7 linked regions of the Homo sapiens genome follow. The protein of the gene in region 1 interacts with the protein of each later gene in a biochemical or structural test. Each region holds a gene or a part of one and is shown on either strand. Other genes may lie near its edges.

Region 1 (3,500 bases):
TGTACATGTTTTTGTGTGAACATAAGCTTTCATTTCTCTTGGGTAAATACTAAAAATGGCATTTTGGAGCATATGGTAAGCATATGTTTAACTTTGTTAAGAAGCTGCCAGACTCTTAGACTCCCATACTGTTTTGAATTATCAGCTAGGTGTTTTGCAAATATTGTCTCCCAGCCTGTGTCTCCTTATCATTTCATTTTTTTAAGTGTCTTCTGAACACCACAGGTTTTAATTTTGATTAAGTACAGTTTACCAAGTTTTTCTTCTGTGGCTCTTGCTTTTACATTGTCTTTAAGAACTCTGCCTAACCCAAGATTATAAGGATTTTTCTCCTCTGTTTTTTGGTAGAAGTTTTATAGTTTCTGGGGTTTCACATTTAGATCTGTAACTCATTTTGAGTTAGTGTGTGACAAAAGGCTCAGTTTTTTTCATGTCAGTGTCCACTTGTTCTAGGGGCATTTGTTGAAAAAAGACTGTCTTTTCTCCACCTTTGTTGAACATCAGGTGACCTTACATGTGTAGGCCTGTTTCTGACTCTGTATTCTGTTCCATGTATCTGAGTGTTAGCTATACCACATGGTCTTGTAGCTTTCTTTATAGCTAGGCCTGAAAGCAGGGTCTTCCAACTTTATTCTTTTACAAAAGTGTTTTTGAGACACTTCCTTAGTTCCCTGCCTTCCATGTAAATTTTAGAAGTGGCTTACTGATTGCTACAGAAGTTCTGCCAGGAGTTTGAGTGGGATACCATTGAGTTTATAGATCAAATTGGGAAGAATTGACGTCTTAACGGTATTAGGTTTTGTAACTCCTGCACATGGAATATCTCTCCATTTATTCAGTCTGAAAGATTTCTTTTTATCAGTATTTAGTAATTCTTAACATGCAAATCTTGCATATATTTTGTTAGACTTATATGTAAGTTTTTCATGCTTTTTCATTCTGTAGTAAATATTACTGTTTAAAAACTTATATTTTCAATATGTAGAAATAAATTATATATATAGAAAAATACATGATTTTTGTTCATTGATCATGTATCCTGCAACCTTGTAAACTCACTTGTTAGTTCTAAGAGCTATTTTATAGATTCTTTGGGATAGTGTGCGTTCACTCTCTTGGGTGTTTATTCCTGTATGTTTTTTATAAGACACTGCACAGCTCTTTGTGGTGCTCATTATTACCTTCTTATTTTCCAGAGTGTCCCACTGGTCCAGACATCATTCCAATTGTAGCTGGTGTGGTTGCTGGAATTGTTCTTATTGGCCTTGCATTACTGCTGATATGGAAGCTTTTAATGATAATTCATGACAGAAGGGAGTTTGCTAAATTTGAAAAGGAGAAAATGAATGCCAAATGGGACACGGTAAGTTACAAAACATCCAAAAAGCAAAGTGGCTTATAAAGTAAATGTAATACTCCTAAGACTTATGTATTAGCTGTCAGGCTGATTATTAAAGTCCTTTCTAAGTATTTTATTCCCCCAAAAGTTTCTTACTCAAGGAATTTGCATTTAGTGAAAAACAGAAAGCATCCTAAATATATCCCATTGAAACAAAACATTGATTATAAGCATGTATATTCTGGTTACTGTGGCCAGTATTTTTATTTCTTTAATAGTTTTGATCCTAAATCTGCCTTTTCATCTAATGTGAAGTAGAATCCTAAATAATGTTATCTGTGTAGCAAGCTATTCAATGGAAAGCTGCTTCTTTCTTTAAAACAAACAAACAAAAAAAACCTTCAGTGAAAGCCAGATTCAAAAGGTTATATACCAAGCTTGTCCAACTCGCAGCTCGTCGGCCAGGACATGCAGCCCAGAATAGCTTTGAATGTGGCCCCAACACAAATTTGTAAACTTTCTTAGAAATTGTAATTATTATTATTATTTTTTTTTGGTAACTTTTTTTTAAAGCTCATCAGCTATCGTTAGTGTATTTTATGTGTGGCCCAAGACAATTCTTCTTCTTCCAGTGTGGCCCAGGGAAGCCAAAAGATTGGACACCCCTGCTATATACTATATGATTCCATTTAGAGGACATTCTGGAAAAGCAAAACTGTAGGGGCAAAAATCAGTGGTTGCTAGGGGCTGGAATGGGGGAAAGTGTTGACCACAGAGGGGCGTAAGGGATCTTCCTTGGGATGATCTTGATTGTGGGTGGATTTATGTATTTGAAAACTCACAGAACTATGTACTTTAAAAAGATGTATGTTCCTCTATGAAAATTATATCTCAGTAAACTTTGGCTTATAAAAATCTTAAAAGCCCTAAGTGACCGAAAGGTTATGTTAGCATTGAGTGCTTTGAAATATGGAGTCAGAGGGTGGGGTAACCAAATGTTGGCCTTTGTGTATTCATCTTTTGATACAAGAAAGCAATGCCAATCTTCAGTATTTTTAAATTGTAAATGAATTTTGTAGTTAGTTGCACTTTACTACAATTTGCTTGGGTTTTTAAAAATTATCAATTTTTTAAATTACAAATTTCAGAAGGGTAGAAATAAAAAAAAAGACATTTATAGTGTTCAAACACTATAAAGGGATTTTTTTTTTCTGATGAAATCATTAGAAACTATTTCTTTTACTTTAGCAAGAAAATCCGATTTACAAGAGTCCTATTAATAATTTCAAGAATCCAAACTACGGACGTAAAGCTGGTCTCTAAATTGCCGTTCGTATTTTGTTTCACTTTCTGCCTTTGCATGTGAACTTCTATCTTTTTTACTGCACTGTGTGTCCTTTATCACTATTGCTGTTCTTTTTTTAAGTCTGGCTTTAAATATCGCTATTGTGGCTTTTCTTTTTGTATGTTAACTTCGCGTTTAGAAAGACCGTAAAATAAGTAATGTGATATAGAAACAGCAGCCATGTTGTAGTGAAAAGAGAATGTGCTTTGCAATCAGTTAGACCTCAGGTCAAATCCCACCTCTTCCACTTAGTAAGTAGAACAGCATTGAGTCACTTCACTTCTCTCAACTGTCACAGGGAGTCAGTACTCTGTTTTGTATGGGGTGGTTGTATTTGGCAAATGCACTCCAGTATATGAAATCAGCCTGTCAGCTCTAATCCTCATAACAGTCCTGTGCCTAGAATGATATTATCCTATTATCTTTTGTTCTTTTTCTGTTTATTTATTTATTTATTTTGAGACAGTCTCTCTCTGTCGCCCAGCCTGGAGTGCAGTGGTGTGATATCAGCTCACTGCAACCTCTGACTTCCAGATTCCAGCAATTCTCCTGCCTCAGCCTCCCGAGTACCTGGGATTACAGGTGCCTGCCACCATGCTAGGCTAATTTTTTTGTTTTTAGTAGAGATGGGGTTTCACCACATTGGCTGGGCTGGCCTTGAACTCCTGACCTCCAGTGCTCTGCCCACCTCGGTCTCCCAAAGTGCTGGGATTACAGGCGTGAGCCACTGTGCCCCACCAGTATTATCCTTAAATAACAAATTTGTTATGAGTAAATTTTAGGGTTGGATAGTGAAAATTGATCACGAAATCCAAA
Region 2 (4,009 bases), on another chromosome or scaffold:
CTCTAATAAACACATGTTGTTTACTTTTGTTTTCTATGTGCAATCTTTGTTGTAGAGCTACTACTACTACTACTACACCAGCAAAAGAGAAAACCTCTCACTCAAGATATACACTGTGGGTCACTATTTTGATACTTTAGTGTCCACTAACATTAAATACTTGGTGTTTTATCCCTAAAACTTGACATCTATTCTTTAAAAAAAAAAAAAAAAATCACAGCTGGGAAAGGAGTATTTAAAGGATGTTTGCTTTTGAGTTTTGTCACAAGGAGTGTTTTTAAAATACGATTTATCACAATAAAATTAAGTGAAATTCTCACTGTTCTCAAATAATTCCTCATGTTTTCCCGAAGAAATTGTTTATTTTGAGAAAATTCTTTCAGCATACCAGTTTTTAGACATAATCATTTTTATAACTGATGGATCCACAGCAAACGTTGTTATTTTACGTGTAACTTAAAACTGTAAAGAGATAAATTGCTTTCACATAAACTACATGTGACTACAGGCAATTATTAGAGCTGCAATCTGAAATATGCACACATTGTCTACCTGTGTTTGAAAGAGAAGATTATTTAACAAGGGAGTACACACAAGTCATCTCTATGACCTATTGAAAAAATGTCCCATAAATATTCATTCTTCTGACATGAACTATCATTCCAATAAAATGTCACTGTCAACGAGTATATAGAATAACATATGGGGCTTTTTAAAATCCCATCGACTATTTTTCAACTCAATTTATTTCACTGTAATAGAAACTTTCCATTTTCCCTTTTAGCTAGCCCTATAATTAATTGCACTGTCTGACCACCACAACCTATGAGAACTTGTGTAAAGAACGCAATGTCATCACCCAAAAGTTTCTATTAAGCACTTGTCAAGGGTAGCATGGAACAGTTTTTAAAAAACCAGGGAAATCACTTGGGCTTTCTAAAATTTTTACAACTATAGTTGGGTTATCCAAGAGATGTTTTAAGGCGAAGATATGAATGACAATTGATGACTCCAAAAATACCCAGGATAAATTGGATAGCCACGATTTTAGAAACTAAAGAGCTTCCCTTGAATTGTATCTAGTGAATACTCTCCAGGCTTCCTCCCTCCCAGTTGATTTCATTTGTCCATCAATACAACTTTTAATAGTTTCTCAAGTATGGAAATCAACCCCGCTATTTCCAAGGTACTGCTGAATGAAGACCTTGACATTTTTTTTAAATGTCATCTTAGAAAGATTCTCCAAGCAATACCAGTCTCACCTACGACATCTTCACGTTAAAAGGCCTCTACCGTACTCCATATACAGTATCCCAATACCAACCTGGCATCCTTCATCCTGAGCTATAACAACCAAGTTTCACTCAGCTATGTCCAGGTAACTGAAAGTATTGCTGGGGCTGCCTAACCTGCCCCATCAAGTTTTATACACACCCTGTGCTGAAGACATCTCACCAGAAAGAAGGTTCACTCACTTCATTTTGTGGGATCATAACCCACGGCACAGCAAACGCCTTCTGCAAGAGAAGGTAGGAGCCACCGAAGGCTGTGGCTTTTGCAGGGTAATTGCATGCACGCAAGAGATTCTCTGCCAATTTCATTTAACTAGACAAAAAAGGCTGCGTTCAAAGCTGCAAATATGTAATAAATGTTGATGGAAAGCGGGCGGAACGTCGATTTTCTTCAAGCAACACTAGTACATGTACAAGTTCTGCACCAGGGCTCAGAGGAAAAGTAGCTTACTGACGCATTGATGGAAGGCTATTTTAAAATTACTCAAAGAATCTAAGGCATCAATCTGACTGGGAGGCTCATACCTCCTCTCCATACACGCAGTCTGTTTTCCTACCTAATTTAAGAATGAATCGCTGGCAGCCACCAGGTGCAATAACCGTGAGGAGGAGGACGTATATCCATCACAATGCATAATGAGGTGTGCCAACCCCGGAGCTGGTGCCCGTCCTTACCTTAGCAGATTAGACAGGGGCAGGGGTCCGGATCCACCGCCCAGGATCCCTCCTTTCCTGCCAGACAGGAGTTTCTCCACCAGAGCCACATTTCCAGTGCGAGCAGCTTCCAGCAGCTCCTGGTCCTTCCCCATAGTCTCTCACCGACTCCCCCACAGAGTCCTTGCCCCCCTCGGGTCCTCCTCCCCACCCACCCCCACTCCCCAAAATCCAGGGCCCTCTTCGCCCCACCCTAAAATAATGCAAGAGCTTCAGCACGGAGAGCTCCCTGCAGCCCCAGGCAGGGAGCACGACTCTCTCCTCCTCTTCGGGGCGCAGCTTTTACAATGGGGATCAGACCATGTCTTGAAAGAGGGGCTGGCCGAGCTGGGAGCCGCGACGCGCCCCCACAGCCACTCCCCTGAATTCCCAAGGCCTCGTTCCCGCGGGTGCGGCGTGAGGGGGTGGGGACTCGGGGGTGCTTTTGAGGAGCGGGAGGAGGGTGGTGAGGACTGAGGTCGGAGGAGGAGGAGGAGGCGGCAGAGAGAGTCCTAGCTGGAGCGGGAGCGCAGGGAACACCCGCGGTGGCAGCAGCGGCCCGCGCGCCCTCGCGCCCGACCCGGGCTCGCCTCGGCTTCCTCGGCGGTTACGCGGGGGCGGCGTCCGCGGCGGGGAGGAGCGCGGCGGCGGCGGCGGCGGCTCGTGCGCTGTGGCCCGCGCCGAGGCAGGGCGGTGGGGGGCAGCCGCAGCGGGCGCGTGCCGAGGGCGGCGGCGGCGGCGAGGCCTGGCGCGCGGGGGGCGTGTGCGCGCGGGCAGGTGCGGCCCCTGGTGCGGCCCGAGTTGGGTGGCGGGCTGGCGGGGAGGGGCCGGGCCGGCTGAGGCGGGGCTTCGGCCCTGAGATTCTCTTCGTTCTCGTGGGCGGGGACCCTCCCTCCTCCACTCTCCTTGGAAGAGCGTTAACCGTGTGAGGACTGGAGTTCCCCGGGCCGCGTCGGCTCCTCCTCGGCCCGGCGGGCCCCGGCAACACGCCTCGGGTCTGTCACGACGCCTGAGGAAAATCCTCCGTGACAGGAATGGGGAGGCTGGTGACACTGGGGAGGGGCCCTTTGGCCACCGCTTCCATCAGAGTCTAGGCAACTTGACCGGCATTTCACCCTTCCGCTTTACCTCCCCAAGAGAGCCTGAGATCTGCCCTTGGTTAGAAAGAAGAGGCTCGTTTCGTCCTAGTTTCTGTGGCACTGGCCACCGAGCAGTTTGCGACTGTTTCAGTTTTTCTGGAGTCTTTAATCAGCCCATATTTTAGTTGGGCTTTGGAGATCTGCTGACTTGTAAGAATACCAGGAAAAAGGCTCTCATTGAAAATTTATCCACATCTACACTCGAAAAATATAAATGGGCATGGATTAGAGATCCACTTTAATTTGCATATATCATCAGCAATTCATTGTGCATGGTTGGCATGACTTGTTAGATGCTCTCCTTGGCCGTGGTGGAGAACGCGCGTTTATTTTCTATTAAAACTTCCTGTTACACCTTGTGCTTTGCATTGTCCTTGGAATAGACTTCATAAATGTTCACTTGTTGATAATTGATTGGTAAGAAGAGGACTTAATAGGCACTGTGCTTACAACAACCCAGTGAACTGGATATTATTATATCCATTTTAGAAATGAGGAAATAGGGCTCAAATGGTTAATTAAATTTCTCAAGATGCCACATGGAGTAAGTGGCTGACTCAGAACTAGACCCCAGAACAGACTCACTCCAGACACCATGTGCTTCCCAATATACGTTCCTGCCCCCCATGGAAAAGCGAAATGGACAGACAATAATTATTGCATGCATTTGATGAGTAGTTGCTACATACCAGACACTATGCTAAGTGCTTTCCATGTTCTCATTAAGCCTTGCAACAATCGCATGAGATAGGACCATTTTCATCTCTATTTTGGAGATGAAGAAACTGATTACCCGCAAGATAATAGGGATAGAAAGTAACTGAGCCAAGGCTCAAATCCGGCACTGTCTGCTGTAGGCAAAGATTTTCAATAAATAACTGGGGG
Region 3 (3,500 bases), on another chromosome or scaffold:
CTGCCTCCGCCTCCTGAGTAGCTGGGACTGCAGGCATGCATCACCATGCTGGCTAATTTTTTAATTTTTTGTAGAGGCTGGGTCTTGCTGTTACCCAGGCTGAGGGTGTTGAACTCCTAGGATTAAACAATTTATTCAGAAGCGACATCATCCAAGAACACCAAGGCAACTTTACGGAGCAAATGTTTTATTTAATAAGTTATAAGATACAATTTACAGTCGGCGTTTGATTCCAGTTTGGCTTCCGTGTCCCAGCTTACAACACCCGTGGTCCTTTCACATCAGGCTCCGGGCTGTTCCACTTTCTGTAGGGTGGGCTTTTACCCCCAACACTCGCCCCAGATACTACACCTGCCACAAGAGTGGCCACTTCCTCAGGACTAAGCAGCAAAACCTAAAGGTCTGCCTGCCCAGACCACACTACACATTTGGGCTCAGGCAACGTCCCTGACACTTTAACCTCATTCCAAAGCCAGCTCAGGTCTGCAGGAAGGCAGGCAAAATTCCCTACACCTCATTTCTGGATTTCTGCACCACACAGCTCTCACTGTTTCTGCCAATGGTGAAAAGACCACCAATAAGCTGCTGCCCTTCTCTCCCCCAACCATTCCCAACTTTCAGGCCAAAGACCCGCAGGAGTTTCATTCTGTCCTGTCTGTACAGATCATTATTTTCCAGAAAAAGTGACCCATGAAGTTGGCTGGGGCGGGTGTGGAGTGTTATGTCATGGGACGGACCTTGGGATGAGGGCGTTAATCCATGGGCCCCTCTGAGATCACTTTAAACATTTTGGTAAGACTGCCCAGGCTGATGAAGGGCTGGAGCGTGTGTTAAAAACAAGGGCTAGTGTTGGTTAAAAGGGATCTTTGGCAAGTGGGAAACTGCTCGCCACTGCAGAATTTCTTCAGACCAAGGAAGGGACTGAAACGGACTTGGAAAACTAAAGCAAAACCATGACTGCCGGGATGGTCTCGTGTGGTGATTCTGCAAGAAATAATCACCAGAGCGAGGGGACAGGTACTTGAGAGACATGTGGGCCTGGCTGCCACTCTGCCCTCTGAGTTTCTGTAGGGTGCCCGGCTGCCACTCTGCCCTCTGAGAAGTGTAAGAAGGCCACAGAGCATGGGGGTGTTGGCGATGAGGAGCGGTAAAGCAGTGCTAGTGATCTAATAGCCAAATACATTAACACGGACACTGGAAGAGATTAAGCGGATTTTAAGTCATCTCCTTTGCCAAATGACAACCAAACTAGGTGTCCCCTTTTTCTCTGCCCATCTTCCCCTAGCCTTGTTTCATAAATGCTGAAGAGTGAACCAGCAGCTCAGGCTAGCCAGTTTTGTTTTTTTGAAATGTCAGTCTCATTGTGTTCCTGGTCTGTCTGCTGCAGTGGCTGGTCTGTTCCACCAAGAGTTCTGGTTTGCACCTAGTGTACTCAGGATCTTCTCAGCCCCCTGAACAAGCTTGCATTTCTTAAGATTCTCCAATATGTCCCTCAAGAGTCCAGTCTAGGACTTATTTCTGAAGGCATTTTACAACAGCAATATTTTAGGGATGGGGTTTCAGCCCCACAAACAGGCTGGAGGGCTTTGTATAAAATGAATTACAAACAAGCAACAAAAGCAACCACAAGAACTCTCTCCAGGATTTGAGAAAACTGTTTTAAGGCACTGTGACATGAAAAGGGCTGCCAGGGATGTGTTCCTCCCCCCACTTCACAGCCAGCACATAATCGCCCCTCTCCTTGACGACGTATGTGACGTTGTATTGCTGGTTGCCTACATGCTTCATGGAGACCTCCTCGCAGGGGGTGGTGGGCCCATGGACCCCGATCAGCAGCATGTTGGAGCCTAGGAGGCAAAAGGTGGTTACTCCACCCGGATGCATCAGGACAGGCACAGGAAGAAGAGGAAATATGAGAGCCAAAGGTAAGGTGCTTCCACGATAATGCTGGGGCCCCTAAGAGGTGGGAGAGCGTGGCAATTACAAGCAGAGGCTCATAGAGCCTGACGGTGTGGGTTCGAATCCCTGCCCTGCCACTTGCTACCTGGGTGACCTTGGACTGGAATCTCACCTCTCCCTAGCTCAGCTTCCCCATCTGTAAACAGGGAATGAGAACAGCACATACCTCACGAACTAGTTGTGAGGTTTAAGAGTTATGGGTGTCAAAACCTAGCACACAGTAAGGGCTATTCTAAGTGTTGGCTATGAGAATCTTCTTGTTTACTCTCACAAGCACCTTAAGGAAGGTACTTCCGAGAAGAGGAAACTGACTTTTGGAAAGAGATTTAATAACTTTCCAAGGTCACATGGCTAAATAAGTTTTAGAACAAACGAATGAATGAATGAAGTGGCGGTACTAGGTTTCCAGCCCAGGTGTACTGGATGCCAGAACCCAGGCAACCGACCCTTGAAACCCAAATAAATACCCAAGTTCAAAAGGCAAAAGAGAAGGAAATCATTTAAAAATATTAAGTGCAGGAGAACAGGGTCATGACGATGGTTACTTGCAAACGGCTGGCCTACATGGGGGTGGGCACTGCAGGAGACCTCAGCAGGGAAGGCCAGTGTACCCAGGGTGCCCAGCCTGCCCCTGCCCCACCCCACCCTTGAAAAGGCCCAGACACCTACCAGCTTTGCTGCAGTCCACCAGGAAGGAACTCTTCTGGCCCACAAAGGCCTTTGAGAGCCCTGCCCCCTTAGAGGTCACCTTGCTGGCGTCCGAGGATGCCTTGGGAATGGCGCTATAGCAGGTCTCTGTAGACGACCTGGTCACTGACTCCACCAGGATGGATGAGGTCTCGTTGGCTGAGCCAGGGCTAACTAGACGCTGGCCTAAGATACAGGAGGGAGGGGGACAGGCATGAATGGCCAGATCAAGAGGGGTCTCTCAGCCAGAGGACAGGCGAGTACCCTACACAGTAACCCCAGGAGAGCCCGCGCACCCCAACACAAAAGCCACCACACCTGTATCTCACACCCATAATGTCTTCTAAACCCCTAGGATCCCACCCCCATACAACTAGGATCTGGCTTTCTGGGCAAATGGATGAGTCTGGCCTTGGCTGACAAGGCCAAGGACCCTCCCAATCCCCCCACCCCCTACCCACCAAAGATGTGCCTGTGGAATTCACATCTTTCTATTGACATAAAATAGTCTATGTATAAGCAGTGTAAAAGTTTGGGATGACATATAATGAAATATCAAAAAATGATTCTGTGGATGAGAAAGGATGATTTTTCTATCTGAATTTTCTAATTTTCCTGCGATGAACCTACATTCTTTATGTAACAGTGAATCATGACGTGTGGAAGGGATTTACTACAGTGTTTATGGTGGTTACCTTGGGTGGTGGCTGTGAAGTGGTTTTCATAGTTTGGTATTTTTTCCAGTGTTTTGGAGGAGACACATTTTTATAAGTATAGGAAAACTTTTTGATTATTTTTCAAGTGAAAATTAGAAATCAGGGGATTTTTCAGACCCTGATCTAAACAAATACGTA
Region 4 (4,084 bases), on another chromosome or scaffold:
CCTCCTCCTTCACTCCTCTGCCACACCACCCCACTCCAGGTATTTCTCTGTCCTCCAAAGACAGTGAGTCTCAAGTGGTGTCCAGCTGGTGGCTGGGGGGCTGAGCTGGCAAAGCCCAAGGAGTTCAGAGAGGGAGAGTGGAAGCAACCCCAACTCCTCAAGCCAGAACAAGCACAGCCTGGCACACTGAGCCTGGGCAGAGGCAAGGGGATGCATACACTGGCCAGGGAGGTAGAGGAGCTGAGTGGGGAGGTTCTAGGGGATCCAGAGTCACATGGACAAGATCTCATGCCTGCTACGAGAAAGCCATGAACTCAAACTCTTCTCTCCAGATGAAACCCTGGGACTTCAATGGACTCAAGAAAAGGAAAGCAAACAATGGAAAATGGGGCTGGTTGGGGGCGGAGTGGGGGCAACCTTCCCTTCATGACCACCCTATGAATAGAAATAAAGAGCAGAAGAGCAAGAGTCTGGGAGCTGTGAATCGGGTGCTCAGGCTGGGCCTGCTCAGTCGTTGAGGAGAGGGGAGGAGGAAGGGGAGTTCACACACAGGAACCATGAATATGACGGCAAAACGAAGAAAGCTGGGAGCAGTCCGGGGTACTGGACTCCACAGGAGCAGGCCCAAGCTGTAGCAGGATGACAATGACTGATGCAATTAATATAGTGAACCAGCTGGGCACAGTGGCTCACGCCTGTAATCCTAGCACTTTGGGAGGCCGAGGTGGGTGGATCACCTGAGGTCAGGAGGTCGAGACAAGTCTGACCAACAAGGTGAAACCCCGTCCCTACTGAAAATACAAAAAGTTAGCCGGGCATGATGGCAGGAGCCTGTAGTCCCAGCTACTCGGGAGGCTGAGACAGGAGAATTGCTTGAACCCAGGAGGCGGAGGTTGTAGTGAGCCGACATCGCGCCACTGCACTGCAGCCTGGGCGATGGAGGGAGACTCCGTCTCATAAATAAATAAATTTAGTGAACCATGAATTTACTGCTATCACCTTCTTCACTTCGTACAGCCCTGGAGGAAGGGGTTATCATTCCCATCTTCCAGATGAGAAAACTGAGGAATCAGAGAGCTCGTCCAGGGGCACATAACCTCTAAGTGACAGAGCCAGGATTTGAACCTAGATCTGCCAGGCCCCCAAGATAACCACGAAGAGAGAAAGAAACAGAGGCTAGAGCCCCAGGAGGAAGGAGCTGGCAGATCGTCTCTGAGGGTGGGGCTGTGGCTTCTCTGATCTCAGGCCCCCATCCTCCGCCCAGGCCCCGCCCCTGCCCCTCCCAGCACTGCCTGGAAGTGTGGGGTGAGAGCTCCTCCTAGGACACCCCTTTCCCCTTGGGGAAAGAATTGTGCCCCCAGGCCCTTCCCCGCGGAGGTCCCTCTCCTCCTTCCCCCTCATCTCCCCTTCCTGGGACAGAAAGTGCCTCCACCTGCATCCCCAGGGGCCCGGCCTCCAGGGCCCGCTGGCCCCACAGCAGGCAAGCTGAGATGACGGTCAAGCTGGATTTCGAGGAGTGTCTCAAGGACTCACCCCGTTTCCGGTAAGTGTGAACTGGTCTGGGGGGCTAAGGAGGGGAAAGTCTAACACCCCCAGCACACACACACCTTTCCCCAGGCCAGGTCTCCTTCCAGGGAGCAGGCCTCTAAGAGGCAGGAGCGAGCCTGTGGGCCAAAGTGGTACCCCAGCTGTGAAAGCAGGGTACTCCAATGCTCTCTGCCCCTGCATGCTCCTCCTGGCCTCTGCAGTTTCCCTCACCCCTAGAGCTGGCATTCCCTCTGGCCTCTCAGTGGGACCCCTGCCCCTCCCCCAGCACCTGCTCTGGGGCGGTTAGCAACTTCCTGCCCTGGCCACATCCACCCTCCTTCTACCCTTCCTGCTCTGGCCTGGGCTGTGGTAGCTCCCAGACTGCAGAGCGGGCAGAGCACAAGTAGGTGGGTGGGGGGCGAGCCTCTCAACTCTGCAGCTTTCTCCTCCGTACCCACCGCCCTGCGACTCCATCCCGCCTGATGAGGCAGACAGACCAGATGGACCCAAGCTCTCTTCCCATGACCCCCTCTTTCCCAGAGCCTCTATTGAGCTGGTGGAAGCCGAAGTGTCAGAATTGGAGACCCGTCTGGAAAAGGTGACCCTGACATGGAGAGGTGACCCAGGAGTGGATTAGGTTGAGAGGGGTAGGGCCAGGGAGAAAGCTGGAGACACAGAATGCATCCCAGGGATTATTGAATACTGTGTAGGGGAGATATTTTGGAGACTGCAGAGAAGCAAAAAAGGTGGTTCTGTACCGACAAGAAGCTCAGGATCTTGGAAAACAAGACTTACTTTTGGGCCAGGCATGGTAGCTCATGCCTGTAATCCCAGCACTTTGGGAGGCCAAGGTGAATGGATCACCTGAGGTCAGGAGTTCTAGACCAGCCTGGCTAACATGGCGAAACCCCATCTCTACTAAAAATGCAAAAATCATCCAGGCTTAGTGGCACCCATCTGTAGCTCCAGCTACTCAAGAGGCTGAGGCAGAGGAATCACTTGAACCTGGGAGGCGGAGGTTGCAGTGAGCCAAGATCGCACCACTGCACTCCAGGCTAGGCGACAGAGCGAGACTCTGTGTCAAAAAAAAAAAGACTTAATTTTGGACTTCCTTGTTCTGCTCTTGAGCTCCTGCATTGTGCCAGGCCCTGGGCATTCAGGGAGGACAAGATCATTTCTGCTCCCACGGAGCCCAAAGGCTGACTAGAAGACAAACCAGTGAAACGTTTCAATTCAAGACAGTAAGGTGTCCCCTGAGCACTCTATCAAACAGCATGTTCACACAAATACACACTCAAATGCTCTCTCATTCCCCTTACTTCGCTTTACTTTTCTCTGCAACATTTACCTCTGACACATTATGTATTTGCTTGCTATATATTAGTTCTCTATTGCTGTGTAACAAATTGTCACAAATTTAGTGGGCAACATTGTTTTATGGGCAACATGGTGAGACCTCATCTCTACAAATAATAATTTTATTTTTATTTTTATTTATTTGAGATGGAGTCTCGCTCTGTCACCCAGGCTGGAGTGCAGTGGTGCGATCTCGGCTTACTGGAACCTCCACCTCCCAGGTTCAAGTGATTCTCCTACCTCAGCCTCCCAAGTAGCTGGGATTACAGGTGTGCACCACCACACCTGGATAATTTTTTTTCTTTTTGTATTTTTAGTAAAGACAGGGTCTCACCATGTTGGCTAAGCTGGTCTTGAACTCCTGACCTCAAATGATCTACCTGCCGCAGCCTCCCAAAGTGCTGGCATTACAGGCTTAAGCCACCGCACCCGGCCTACAAATAATAATTTTAAACAATGGACTGGATGGAGTGGCCACAGCTGTGATCCCAGATGCTTCAATACTGGGCTCAAGTGATCCTCCCTCCTCAACCTCCCCAGTAGCTGTGCTACAGGCACATGCCACCACGCCTGGCTTTTTTAAATTTAAATTTATTTTTTGTAGAGATGGGGTCTCCCTATGTTACCTAGGCTGGTCTGGAACTCCTGGCCTCAAGTAATCCTCCCACCTCAGCCTCCCAAAGTGCTGGAATTACAGGTGTGAGCCACCACACCTGGCCTGAATTTTTTATTTTGAGTAAATTATTGACTCAGGAGACTAGTGAGGAGAGGTCTCATGTACCCATCACCCAGCTTCCCCCAGTGGTGACATCTTATACAATACTAGTACATTATTAAAACCAGGACATTAATAGTGTCACATTACAATTAACAATAAACTCGGCCAGGTGTGGTGGCTCACGCCTGTAATCCCAGCACTTTGGGAGGCCAAGGTGGGCGGATCACGAGGTCAGGAGATCGAAACCATCCTGGCTAACACTGTGAAACCCCGTCTCTACTAAAAATACAAAAAATTATTCGGGTGTGGCGGCAGGCGCCTGTAGTCCCAGCTACTCAGGAGGCTGAGGCAGGAGAATGGCGCGAACCCGGGAGGTGGAGCTTGCAGTGAGTGGAGGTCGTGCCACTGCACTCCAGCCTGGGCGACAGAGTGAGACTGTCTCAATAAACAAAAACAAACAAACAAAAAACCCCAATAAACTCT
Region 5 (3,500 bases), on another chromosome or scaffold:
ACTGCAGCCTCAACCTCCTGGGCCCAAGCGATCCTCCCACCTCAGCCTCCTGAGTAGCTGGGACCATAGGTGTGTGCCACCACACCTGGCTAATTTTTAAATTTTTTGTAGAGACAAGGTCTCCCTACGTTGCCCACGTTAGTCTTGAACTCCTGGGCTCAAGTGATCCTCCCACCTCAGTTTTCCAAAGTGTTGGGATTACAGGCATGAGCCACTGCACCTGGCGATAACTATTATTATAGGACATTGCCTACTGTACTATGTAGTGGTTGTACCAGGAGCATGTTTTATTTTTAGAATTAGTTTGTAAATGGTTAAACTGAAGTCAGATGGACCTGTATTCCAATCCAGGTTTCATAACTTTGTTGGCCTTGGGCAATTTACTTCTCTAAGTCTTAGTTTTTGTTTTTGTAAAATGGATATAATAATACTTGCCTCATAAGAGTATTTTAAGAATGATTAGGCTGGGCGCGGTGGCTCACGCCTGTAATCCCAGTACTTTGGGAGACCGAGGTGAGCGGATCACGAGGTCAGGAGATTGAGACCATCCTGGCTAACACGGTGAAAGCCCGTCTCTACTAAAAATACAAAAAAATTAGCCGGGCATGGTGGCGGGCACCTGTAGTCCCAGCTACTCAAGAGGCTGAGGCAGGAGAATGGCGTGAACCCTGGAGGTGGAGCTTGCAGTGAGCCGAGATTGCACCACTGCACTCCAGCCTGGGTGACAGAGTGAGACTCTGTCTCAAAAAAATAAATAAATAAATAAATAAATAAATAAATAAATAAATAAATAAAAAAGACTGATTGAGGCTGGGCATGGTGGCTCATGCCCATAATCCCAGCACTTTGGGAGGCCGAGGAGGGTGGATTGCTTAAGCCCAGGAGTTCAAGACTAGCCTGAGCAACATGGTGAAACTCCATCTCTACAAAAAATACAGAAATTAGCCAGGTGTAGTGGCACATGCCTGCGGTCATAGCTACTCAAGAAGCTGAGGTTGGAGGATCACCTGAGCCTGGGGAGGTCGAGGCTGCAGTGAGCCATGAATGTGCCACTGCACTCCAGCCTGGGTGACATAGTGAGACCCTATGTCAAAAAAACAACAAAAAAGATTGATTGACATAATATGCGTAAGGCCCCTGGCACATAGTAAGTGCTTTAAAACAGTAGAAGTCATGGTGGTTGCTGATACTGGCATGAGGTCCTGTTTCTAGTGTGGATGGTCTAGGCCAGCTGTCCCCGTGGCTAACTAGGGGTGGGTGGTCTCTGCTCTTCCTTTCTTCCCCCATGGCCCCATGGTCCCCACCTTTCCAGTTGTAGGCACCGGGGGCGCCGAAGTACACAGTGTTCTGGGTGAAGCCACCGCTGGTGCCCAGCTGGCACATGCCCGTCTCCAGGTAGTCTGTGTTGCTATTGCACATCTCGTTGTGGTAGGTCTGCCAGTCATCACTGGAGTCCAGCTCTAGGTCATTGCCTCGCACGTAGCACTTGCCCACCATGCGCCGCTGGTCTTCTGACCCTGACCACAGCACCTGGGTGTAGCGGTGGGCACAGACCTGGGGACCCCCCAAACACAGGCAGCCTTAGTCAGGCACAGGGACCCGGGTCAGCTGTCTCTTTTACCCTGTAAGCCTCTGGCTTTGCCAAACAGGAGTCAAAGGAGATCTCCTGGCTTCTCCTTCTCCCAGTGATACTTAAACCTGCATCTCCTTTCCAGAATTCAGAAATCTGCTCTGAGGGTCAGGAACACTTTTTGGAAAGCTGTAAAGTGTGGATCTGAGAGTGGCTTAGAGATCTCAGCAAAGGGAAAGCAGGGAAGGATGAGAGACTGTGGGGTTCAGGCTCTTGGTCTAGAAGGGGTTAGTAACAGAGAGATTAAGGGACTTGCTGCTCTGCCATCTCCAGATGACCCTGTCCTCTTAATGAAAGGACCATTATTAAAATAATAATTACAATGACGGTAATAATAATAGCAGCAGCTAACACTTCATGAGTGCTTCCTATATGCCAGGCACAATTCTGAACTCCTCACATATTAAGTGTTAAGCCTGCTAGTGACCCTATGGTGTAGGAATGATTATTTCCCCCATTTTAGATAAACTGAGGCATGGAGAGCTCAGTAACCTGCATAAGATCTCATATCTAGAGAGAGGCAGAGAATATTCAAACCAAGGCTGTCTCCTTCCAAAATCTGAGCTCTTAAGCACATGCTGTGCTGCTTCACGGAGGGGAGAATCTATGCGCAGCCTCTCTGGGTGCACTTTAGCTGCTCAGTATATATTTATTGGGCAAACTGATGGGCCAGAATAGGGTGACTTAAAACAGCCTGGAGACAGGCAAAGTCCAGAAGTAGGCCCTGGTTCTTGTTTACTTGCTTTCTGTGGTCCCTTCTAGCTGTGAGCTCCACCAGCATGTTACCTGAGCCTGTCTTAGTCACTGCTAAGCTTCTAGGAATAGCACAGTGTTTGGTACACAGTAGGGGCTCACCAAATATCTGTTGAATGAACAGTGAGTAAATAACTGCTAAAGGATCCAGGGTGCAGAATCACTTTAAATGGGCTCCTAGACCACAGCCATCCATAACAGGGTTATCAAAAAGGCATTTCAGTGAACTGATGCCAACCTGGAGCTTAAAACAGTGTTCAAAGGTGACAGAAATCCCAGCAGTGGTGGCTTATGGGGTGGCAAATGATTAGAAGGGGTTACAAGGGCACCTTCTGGAGTGATTTTAAGATATATCTTTGGTTATACAGGTACATACATTTGTAAAAATTCATTGAAGTTTGAAATCTGTACATTTCACTGTATGTAAACATTACATCAATTTTTTCCTTTTTGAGACAGGATCTGACTCTGTCACCCAGGCTGGAGTGCAGTGGCATGATCTCAGCTCACTCCAACCTTTCTCTCCGGGGTTCAAGTGATCCTCCCACCTCAGCCTCCCAGGCAGCTGGGATTACAGGCGCATACCACCATGCCGGGCTAATTTATATATTTTTGGTAGAGATGGAATTTTGCCGTGTTGCCCAGGTTGATCACAAACTCCTAGGCTCAAACGATCCTCCTGCCTCATCCCAAAGGAATGAGCCACCGAGCCTGGCCACATCAAATTTTAAAATGAGAAAAAAGCCAGGCATTGTTGCTCTTGCCTATAATCCCAACTACTTGGGAGGCCGAGGCAGGAGGATCACTTGAGCCCAGGAGTTCAAGGCTACAGTGAGCTATGATCATGTCACCCACTCCAGCCTGGGTGACAGAGCCAGACCTCATCTCTAAGAGAAAAAAAAAAAAAAGAAAGAAAAAGAAAAATGGGGCCACATACGGTGGCTCACGCCTGAAATCCTAGCACTAGCAGTTTGGGAGGCCAAGGCAGGAGGATCACTTGAGCCCAGGAGTTTGAGACCAGCCTGGGCAACACAGTCAGACCCTGTCTCTATAAAAACTTTAAAAATTAGCTTGGGAGGCTAAGGCTGGAGGGTCGCTTGAGTCTGGGAAGTCAAGG
Region 6 (3,500 bases), on another chromosome or scaffold:
CAGAAATAGTTTGGGTGTATTTTCTGAGACCATTTCAAACAGAGCTCAAGGAAGTTGCTCATTAGAATGCCTAAAGAGAAGAGCGACAGCTGGGCGCGGTGGCTCATGCCTGTAATCCCAGCACTTTGGGAGGCCAAGGTGGGCAGATTACCTGAGGTCAGGAGTTCGAGACCAGCCTGACCAACATGGAGAAACCCAATCTCTACTAAAAAAATACAAATTTAGCTGGGCATGGTGGCGCATGCCTGTAATCCCAGCTACTCAGAAAGCTGAGGCAGGAGAATTGCTTGAACCCAGGGGGGCAGAGATTGTGGTGAGCTGAGATTGCGCCATTGCACTCCAGCCTGGGCAACAAGAGCAAAACTCCATCTCAAAAAAAAAAAAAAAAGAGAAGAGTGACATTCTACAAAAGACAATGTAAGCCTGGTGGGTCACCTTGGATTTATCCCACTGGCCCATGGGGACCAACACACTTATTAACTACCCTACATCCCACAAAATATACTTTGCATATCTGTAGTGGTAAAGAATTAGTATTCACAGATAGTAAATCTACTGAGTTACCCAAACATGTAAATTTAGGCACACTTTAAATATACTGAAATGACCAAAGGCTGAATTTTTCCCCTTTGTTGCTAAAATCAGCACTAACTTTTGCAAATAAAGCACAATCCCTAGGCCTACCAACTTGAAAATGAAACGTGACATCCCATCTCTTACTGTGTCGGCACTAGCTCAGAGAGAAGTAAAAGGAGCCGTGTCCTTACCCTGCATTGAGCTTGGCTTTATCAACCAGAGACCGAGGCTGGTACATATCCGCAAGTGCTTCTGGGGACTGGGGGGGTTGGCTGAATGCGAGGATGCTGCAGTTTTGTTCCGTCAAAGGGCTGTCACTGAACCAAGTCATGGTGGATGATGCTGGTGTTCCATTGATGGGGTCATATATAGGGGTCATGGTTTTACTGTATAAACCAGGACTTACTGCAAGGCAGGGGGATCAAGAACTATGATATGAGAATCCAGGGATATAAATCTTCAAGAAAATATTAACATTACTTACACTAAAATGAGTTTTGACTTTAAATTTGGCACCATTTAAAATAATATAAGTCAAGCTGGGCACTGTGGCCCGCGTCTATAATCCTAGCTACTTGGGAGGCTGAGGTTGGAGAATTGTTTGAGCCTAGGAGTTTGAGACCAGCCAGGGCAACATAGCAAGACTTCATCTCAAAAAACAAACAAACAAACAAACAAAACCCAAAAAATAATATGGATCATGATGGTACAGAGATTAGTAATACACAGGTAATGGTCTTATCTGTAAATTCAGCTCCTCAAAAGCCTTGGAACTCAAATATGTAAAAGCCTTCAAAAATCAACAGGGACAAACATTGGGGACCACCTCTTTTCTTTCTTTTGTTTTTTAGACGGAGTCTCACTCTGTCGCCCAGGCTGGAGTGCTGTGGTGTGATCCTGGCTCACTGCAACCTCAACCTCCCAGGTTCAAGTGACTCTCCTGTCTGAGCCTCCTGAATAGCTGGAATTACAGGCATGAGCCACCACACCCGGCTAATGGAGACCACCTCTTTTCTAATAATTCACAGTTTTCCTATTTCAGTAGGAGTCTTGGCACTATTAGAGAACTGGAGACCTCATAGAATGCATGTACCCAATATGTTTCAGGTAGCCCCTTAAACAAATAGCAGGACTTGCCAATTTTAAGAATTCAGTAGGCTGATGATTTATAAATCAGCTGGCTCTAATTTGTACAATTTGTTCTTTTCATTGGAATACACTATGCAAGAAAGCCCTCAATCTTGGCCGGGTGTGGTGGCTCATTCCTGTAATCCCAGCATTTTGGGTGGCTGAGGCAGGCGGATCACTTGAGGCCAGGAGTTTGAGACCAGCCTGGCCAACATGGCAAAACCCTGTCTCTACTAAAAATACAAAAATTAGCCAAGTGTGATGGTGCACACCTGTAATTCCAGCTACTCAGGAGGCTGAGGCATGAGAATCACTTGAGCCCGGGAGGCAGAGGCTGCAATGAGCCGAGATTGTGCCACTGCACTCCAGCTTGGGTGACAGAGCAAGACTCTGTCTAAAAAAACAAAACAAAACAAACAAACAAAAAATGAAGAAAGAAAGCCTCAATCTTGCAAGCAAGCTAGAGATTTGATTGTTTTGATATAAAAAGAAAAGGATGCTTCTCCTCCAGAATTTTCACCTGCCCTCCTCTTGCATGCCCCATAAAAAACTGAATTCAGGAAAGAATCACACAATGATAGAATCATGAAGAGAGAAGTGTATTTGAGTGATTTAACTTATCTTTTTTCTTTTCTTTTTTTTTTTTTGAGACAGGGTCTTGCTCTGTCACCCAGCCTGAGTGCAGTGGCACAATCTTGGCACACCGCAACTTCCACCCTCAGGGCTCAAGCAATCCTCCCATCTCAGCCTTCTGAGTAGCTGGGACCACAAGCATGCAGCAGCATGCCCAGGTTATTTATTTATTTATTTTTTGTATTTTTAATGGAGATGGAGTCTCACCATATTGCCCAGGCTGGTCTCAAACTTCTGAGCTCAAGTGATCCACCCACCTCAGCCTCCCAAAGTGCTGGGATTACAAGCATGAGGCACCGTGACCAGCCAGTTACCTGTTTTCTAAATATCACTCTTTTATCCCAAATTTGTGGTCAGTGGTACTAAAATTTTGCATTCATTGGCAACATCAGATATACAATTCAAGTAATGAGTTATTAAACATGCTTGATGAAAAAAAGTCTGAAACACATTTCTGTTAATTCTAAACTTGACTAGATAGCCTTTCCTCATCACATCAGTTCTGCAATTTTATTTCTCCTTTGTTTGGTGGGGGTGGGAGGAGAGATATATTTCTCTCTTGAGTTTTACTGTACGTTCAAACAACAAAACACCTGTAACAAGTCTTACCTGATGAACCTGAAGCTGTTGGAGAACTCTCCAGGTTTAGAATATCTTCAATTATGGGTTCCTTATTATTTTTGTCTTTTTTCTTCTTCTTCTTAAAATAGTCACCAGACGGCTTTAACAAGGAAAGCTCTTCTGATCTTCTAATATCTAGAAATAAATATTTTTTAAAAATGAAGAAAAAGTAAAAAGAAAACTCCTTCTAAGACTCAGGGTCATTTTGTGCATTTAAAATCATTTCTCAGGAAATTTCTGAAAAGTAAATGGGACTAAACTGCATCCCTTTTGAAGAAACAGAAGGGGAAAGGGGAACAGAGACCTCCAAAGTAGGTGGGGGGAGAAAACGGTGGAGGGAGATTCAGTCTAGTGAAATTTCTGGTTAGAAAAATTATTATAAAAATATTTCAAATGTATCTAAAGCAAAGGGAATGGTATAATGTCCCCTTCATGGGCTCCCCAGCTTCAGTCATTACTAGCATTATGCTATTCTTGTTACCTATTTACCACCAACTTTACCTCCCTCTCCCCTTTCTTCCTGATATGGTTTGGATGTGTCT
Region 7 (3,500 bases), on another chromosome or scaffold:
GGGAGGCGGAGCTTGCAGTGAGCCGAGATCACGCCACTGCACTCCAGCCTGGGTGACAGAGCGAGACTCCATCTCAAAAAAAAAAAAAAAAAAAAAAGGCGGGTGCCACCATGCCCAGCTAATTTTTGTACTCTACAAGGATTTTGATTCACGTTTGAAGTTCTCTTCTGCGCCCTACCTGGCCTTTATTTCCTCCAAGCTGTTTTATTCTTGTTGTCTTGGTCTCTATGGTTCACTCTTGAAGCTTTCCTTAAATGTGGGTAGTCCATGCCTGTCCATTCATATTTAAAAGTGAAGCTCTAAGAAACCAATTGGAGACCCTGAGTGTGTGAGTAGGGCTTGGCATCTTGGTGGCCCCCTGGAGGCGATGGGGCCGGGCTGCCACTCTTTGTCGGGCATTTCTCTGGTGGCTCAGCCTCTCAGTGGCAACCCCACTGATCTTTCAACTGGAGATAGAAGGCTTCCTGCCAATGTCTTGGGTGACAAGTGGGAAAGGGTGTGGGTGTGTCACTCATCTGAATGCCAGCTTTCTTTAAATTTGTGTTTTTGCCGGGCACGGTGGCTCACGCCTGTAATCCCAGCACTTTGGGAGGCCAAGGCAGGTGGATCACCTGAGGTCAGGAATTTGAGACCAGCCTGATCAACATGGAGAAAGCCTGTATCTACTAAAAATACAAAAGTAGCTGGGCGTGGTGGTGCATGCCTGTAATCCCAGCTACTCAGGAGGCTGAGGCAGGAGAATCGCTTGAACCCGGGAGGCGGAGGTTGCGGTGAGCCAAGATCGTGCCATTGTACTCCAGCCTGGGCAACAAGAGCAAAACTCCATCTTAAAAAAAAAAAATTGTCTGTTTTCACCCTAGTGCAACCCCCACCCCGTCCAGCTGTGTCTGGGGTACCAAATGCAGGGGTGCATCTGGCTCAGCATCTCCAGAGAGTGAGTCCCAGCTTCTGCCAGGTGTCTCCTTGCCATCACTTGGCTGCATGGAGCTGGGGAGGGACCTGCTTTTTTTCTTGGACTTTATCCAGAGTCCTCTCTTCAGCTCACCCTCGCATCTCATCCAGAGGATCCCCATCAGAGCCTGCCAGGGGTCCGCCATGCAAACTGGATGCCTCTGTTGAGATCTCTGTTCTTTTTGCTGATTGCTTTCCGCCTATTTTCAAGTCTCATTGGTGGATTTACCAGACAGGAGAGGGACAAGGCGTGAGGCCCTAGCGCTCTCTGCATAACCCAGTTCCCATCTACAGTTTGCTCTCCATCTTCCAAATTATTTCCTTTTTCCTTTTTTTTTTTTTTTTTTTTTGTGACGGAGTCTCGCTCTGTCGCCCAGGCTGGAGTGCAGTGGCACGATCTCGGCTCACTGCAAGCTCCGCCTCCCGGGTTCACGCCGTTCTCCTGCCTCAGCGTCCTGAGTAGCTGGGATTACAGGCGCCCGCCACCACGCCTGGCTAATTTTTTTGTATTATTAGTAGAGACAGGGTTTCACTGTGTTAGCCAGGATGGTCTTGATCTCCTGACCTCGTGATCCACCGACCTCGGCCTCCCAAAGTGCTGGGATTACAGGCGTGAGCCACTGCGCCTGGCCTTCTTTTTCTTTCTTTTGGAGACAAGGTCTCACTCTATCCCCCAAGCTGGAGTGCAATGGTGCAATTACAGCTCACTGCACCCTCAACCTCATGGGTTCAGGTGATTCTCCCACCTCAGCATCCTGAGTACCTGGGACTACAGGCACGCACCACCTCATGTGGCTAATTTTTTGTATTTTTAGTAGAGATAGGGTTTCACCATGTTGCCCAAGCTGGTCTGAAACTCCTGGGCTCAAGCTATCTGCCTGCCTTGGCCTCCCAAAGTGCTGGGATTACAGGCGCAAGCCACCGCCCCGGCCTGTCCTTTGTCCTTTTGGGTTTATCTTCCTAAACCTTTGCTATCAATTTTGGGTGAGTTTCAGCGGGATTGTTGGTCTTCTGTGGGTAACTGGGATCCCCTCTTGGAGTCTCTGCCTTCCCAGTTCCTTTTCTCTGGAATCCTCTTCCTTCACGCTTCCCTTGAGTGGCCCACTGTCATCCTTCCTATCTCTACTCAGCTTGTCACCTCCTCAGGGAAGCCTTCCCTGACTGCTTCCCCATGTTCCATTCTGTCATCTCCATTGAACTTGGGGGGGCCTTAGACTGAGGGCTCATGTGAGCTTCCCTGTGGAAACTGTTTCCTTGATAGTGTTTATTGCAGCCTTGGATTATTTGACTTATTGATTGGTTTACTCGGTCTCTCCTGCACCCAGGGCAGCATGCCAGCACACAGTAAACATCAGCACAACCAAGCCAAGGTTTAGACGTGCAGGCCTGGGCAGCAGGGGGCTAGCAGGCTATTAAGGATGGGGTTGAGGTCTGTGGCCCATGTCTGGCCACTGAATGAATCTGCCTCAGCAAGGAGGGCAGGGCAGAGGGCCAAGGCTGGCAGGGGCTCAGTGCAGGGCGTCCAGGGCAGCTGGCATCTGACCAGCCCAGCCTCCAGCCTCCTCTCCCCCCGCTCCAGACAGACCCCGTGCGGCTGACACAGCTGTATGAGCAGGCCCGGTGGGACCTGCTGCTGGAGGAGATTGACTGCACCGAGGAGGAGATGATGGTGTTTGCCGCCCTGCAGGTACCAGGCGGGCCTGGGGGCACCAGGGCAGGTGGGAGGTGAGCCAGTCCCAGGGCAGGAAGGGCCTTCCTGAGTGGGGGCTACCTCCAGGGAAGCCCGGCCTGGGGGTACTGCTAGGGGACCAGGCTGCTGGACTCAGCCCTCCCTGGCTTCATGACCACCTAGTACCACATCAACAAGCTGTCCCAGAGCGGGGAGGTGGGGGAGCCGGCTGGCACAGACCCAGGGCTGGACGACCTGGATGTGGCCCTGAGCAACCTGGAGGTGAAGCTGGAGGGGTCGGCGCCCACAGATGTGCTGGTGAGGAGGGGCTCAGGGCAGGGGCTGGGCAGGGAGAACTGTGAGGTACCGGGTGCCCCTCTGACTCTGGTCCTCCCATAGGACAGCCTCACCACCATCCCAGAGCTCAAGGACCATCTCCGAATCTTTCGGTGAGTTGGGGGCCAGAGTAGGCAGCCCTGCTGGAGGGGTTGGTCTGCATATGGAGGGAGGGGGTGAGGCGGCCTTTCACAAACCCCAGCATCCCACGAAGGCCCCGGAAGCTGACCCTGAAGGGCTACCGCCAACACTGGGTGGTGTTCAAGGAGACCACACTGTCCTACTACAAGAGCCAGGACGAGGCCCCTGGGGACCCCATTCAGCAGCTCAACCTCAAGGGTAAGTGCACAGGGCCAGGGGCTGGGTGGGGGGATCCCCACTTGTGGGCTAGGCAGGTGAATGCTCTCACCGGCCCTGTTTCCTCCTGGAGACCGGGGAAGATGCCCTCTGTCCTGAGGTGACGGTGTGGGCTAGGATGCACTCCAGGACCTCAGGCGGCTCTTCCCCTCCCGACCTCCTAGACCACCCCTTCTCTCCCTCCAGG

The links.
Region 2: the proteins of ITGB1 (region 1) and ANKS1B form a complex in vitro, tested with the Homo sapiens proteins (one study listed by IntAct).
Region 3: the proteins of ITGB1 (region 1) and FLNB form a complex in vitro, tested with the Homo sapiens proteins (one study listed by BioGRID).
Region 4: the proteins of ITGB1 (region 1) and ACAP1 form a complex in vitro, tested with the Homo sapiens proteins (one study listed by BioGRID).
Region 5: the proteins of ITGB1 (region 1) and ITGA3 form a complex in vitro, tested with the Homo sapiens proteins (one study listed by BioGRID).
Region 6: the proteins of ITGB1 (region 1) and FERMT1 form a complex in vitro, tested with the Homo sapiens proteins (one study listed by BioGRID).
Region 7: the proteins of ITGB1 (region 1) and FERMT3 form a complex in vitro, tested with the Homo sapiens proteins (one study listed by BioGRID).

What each region holds. Positions count from the first base shown.
Region 1 is NC_000010.11:32,906,231-32,909,730, reverse strand, and holds part of ITGB1 (integrin beta-1 isoform 1A precursor), read left to right. Parts: intron 1-1,196; coding exon 1,197-1,363; intron 1,364-2,587; coding exon of another isoform or gene 2,588-2,662; exon of another isoform or gene 2,663-2,668; intron 2,669-3,500.
Region 2 is NC_000012.12:99,982,137-99,986,145, forward strand, and holds the start of ANKS1B (ankyrin repeat and sterile alpha motif domain-containing protein 1B), read right to left. Parts: upstream 2,801-4,009; 5' UTR 2,102-2,800; coding exon 1,968-2,101; intron 1-1,967. UniProt on the Homo sapiens protein: Isoform 2 may participate in the regulation of nucleoplasmic coilin protein interactions in neuronal and transformed cells. Isoform 3 can regulate global protein synthesis by altering nucleolar numbers.
Region 3 is NC_000003.12:58,168,922-58,172,421, reverse strand, and holds the end of FLNB (filamin-B), read right to left. Parts: intron 2,833-3,500; coding exon 2,629-2,832; intron 1,926-2,628; exon of another isoform or gene 1,848-1,925; coding exon 1,660-1,847; 3' UTR 646-1,659; coding exon of another isoform or gene 549-645; 3' UTR 352-548; coding exon of another isoform or gene 261-351; 3' UTR 171-260; downstream 1-170. Other genes in the region: uncharacterized protein LOC124909485, read right to left, coding at 261-351, 549-645. UniProt on the Homo sapiens protein: Connects cell membrane constituents to the actin cytoskeleton. May promote orthogonal branching of actin filaments and links actin filaments to membrane glycoproteins. Anchors various transmembrane proteins to the actin cytoskeleton.
Region 4 is NC_000017.11:7,335,245-7,339,328, forward strand, and holds the start of ACAP1 (arf-GAP with coiled-coil, ANK repeat and PH domain-containing protein 1), read left to right. Parts: upstream 1-1,284; 5' UTR 1,285-1,490; coding exon 1,491-1,543; intron 1,544-2,018; exon of another isoform or gene 2,019-2,067; coding exon 2,068-2,125; intron 2,126-4,084. UniProt on the Homo sapiens protein: GTPase-activating protein (GAP) for ADP ribosylation factor 6 (ARF6) required for clathrin-dependent export of proteins from recycling endosomes to trans-Golgi network and cell surface.
Region 5 is NC_000017.11:50,066,110-50,069,609, reverse strand, and holds part of ITGA3 (integrin alpha-3 preproprotein), read right to left. Parts: intron 1,555-3,500; coding exon 1,305-1,554; intron 1-1,304.
Region 6 is NC_000020.11:6,109,531-6,113,030, forward strand, and holds part of FERMT1 (fermitin family homolog 1), read right to left. Parts: intron 3,094-3,500; coding exon 2,947-3,093; intron 982-2,946; coding exon 768-981; intron 1-767. UniProt on the Homo sapiens protein: Involved in cell adhesion. Contributes to integrin activation. When coexpressed with talin, potentiates activation of ITGA2B. Required for normal keratinocyte proliferation.
Region 7 is NC_000011.10:64,216,721-64,220,220, forward strand, and holds part of FERMT3 (fermitin family homolog 3 short isoform), read left to right. Parts: intron 1-2,530; coding exon 2,531-2,638; intron 2,639-2,803; coding exon 2,804-2,938; intron 2,939-3,019; coding exon 3,020-3,069; intron 3,070-3,158; coding exon of another isoform or gene 3,159-3,170; coding exon 3,171-3,295; intron 3,296-3,499; coding exon 3,500-3,500. UniProt on the Homo sapiens protein: Plays a central role in cell adhesion in hematopoietic cells. Acts by activating the integrin beta-1-3 (ITGB1, ITGB2 and ITGB3). Required for integrin-mediated platelet adhesion and leukocyte adhesion to endothelial cells.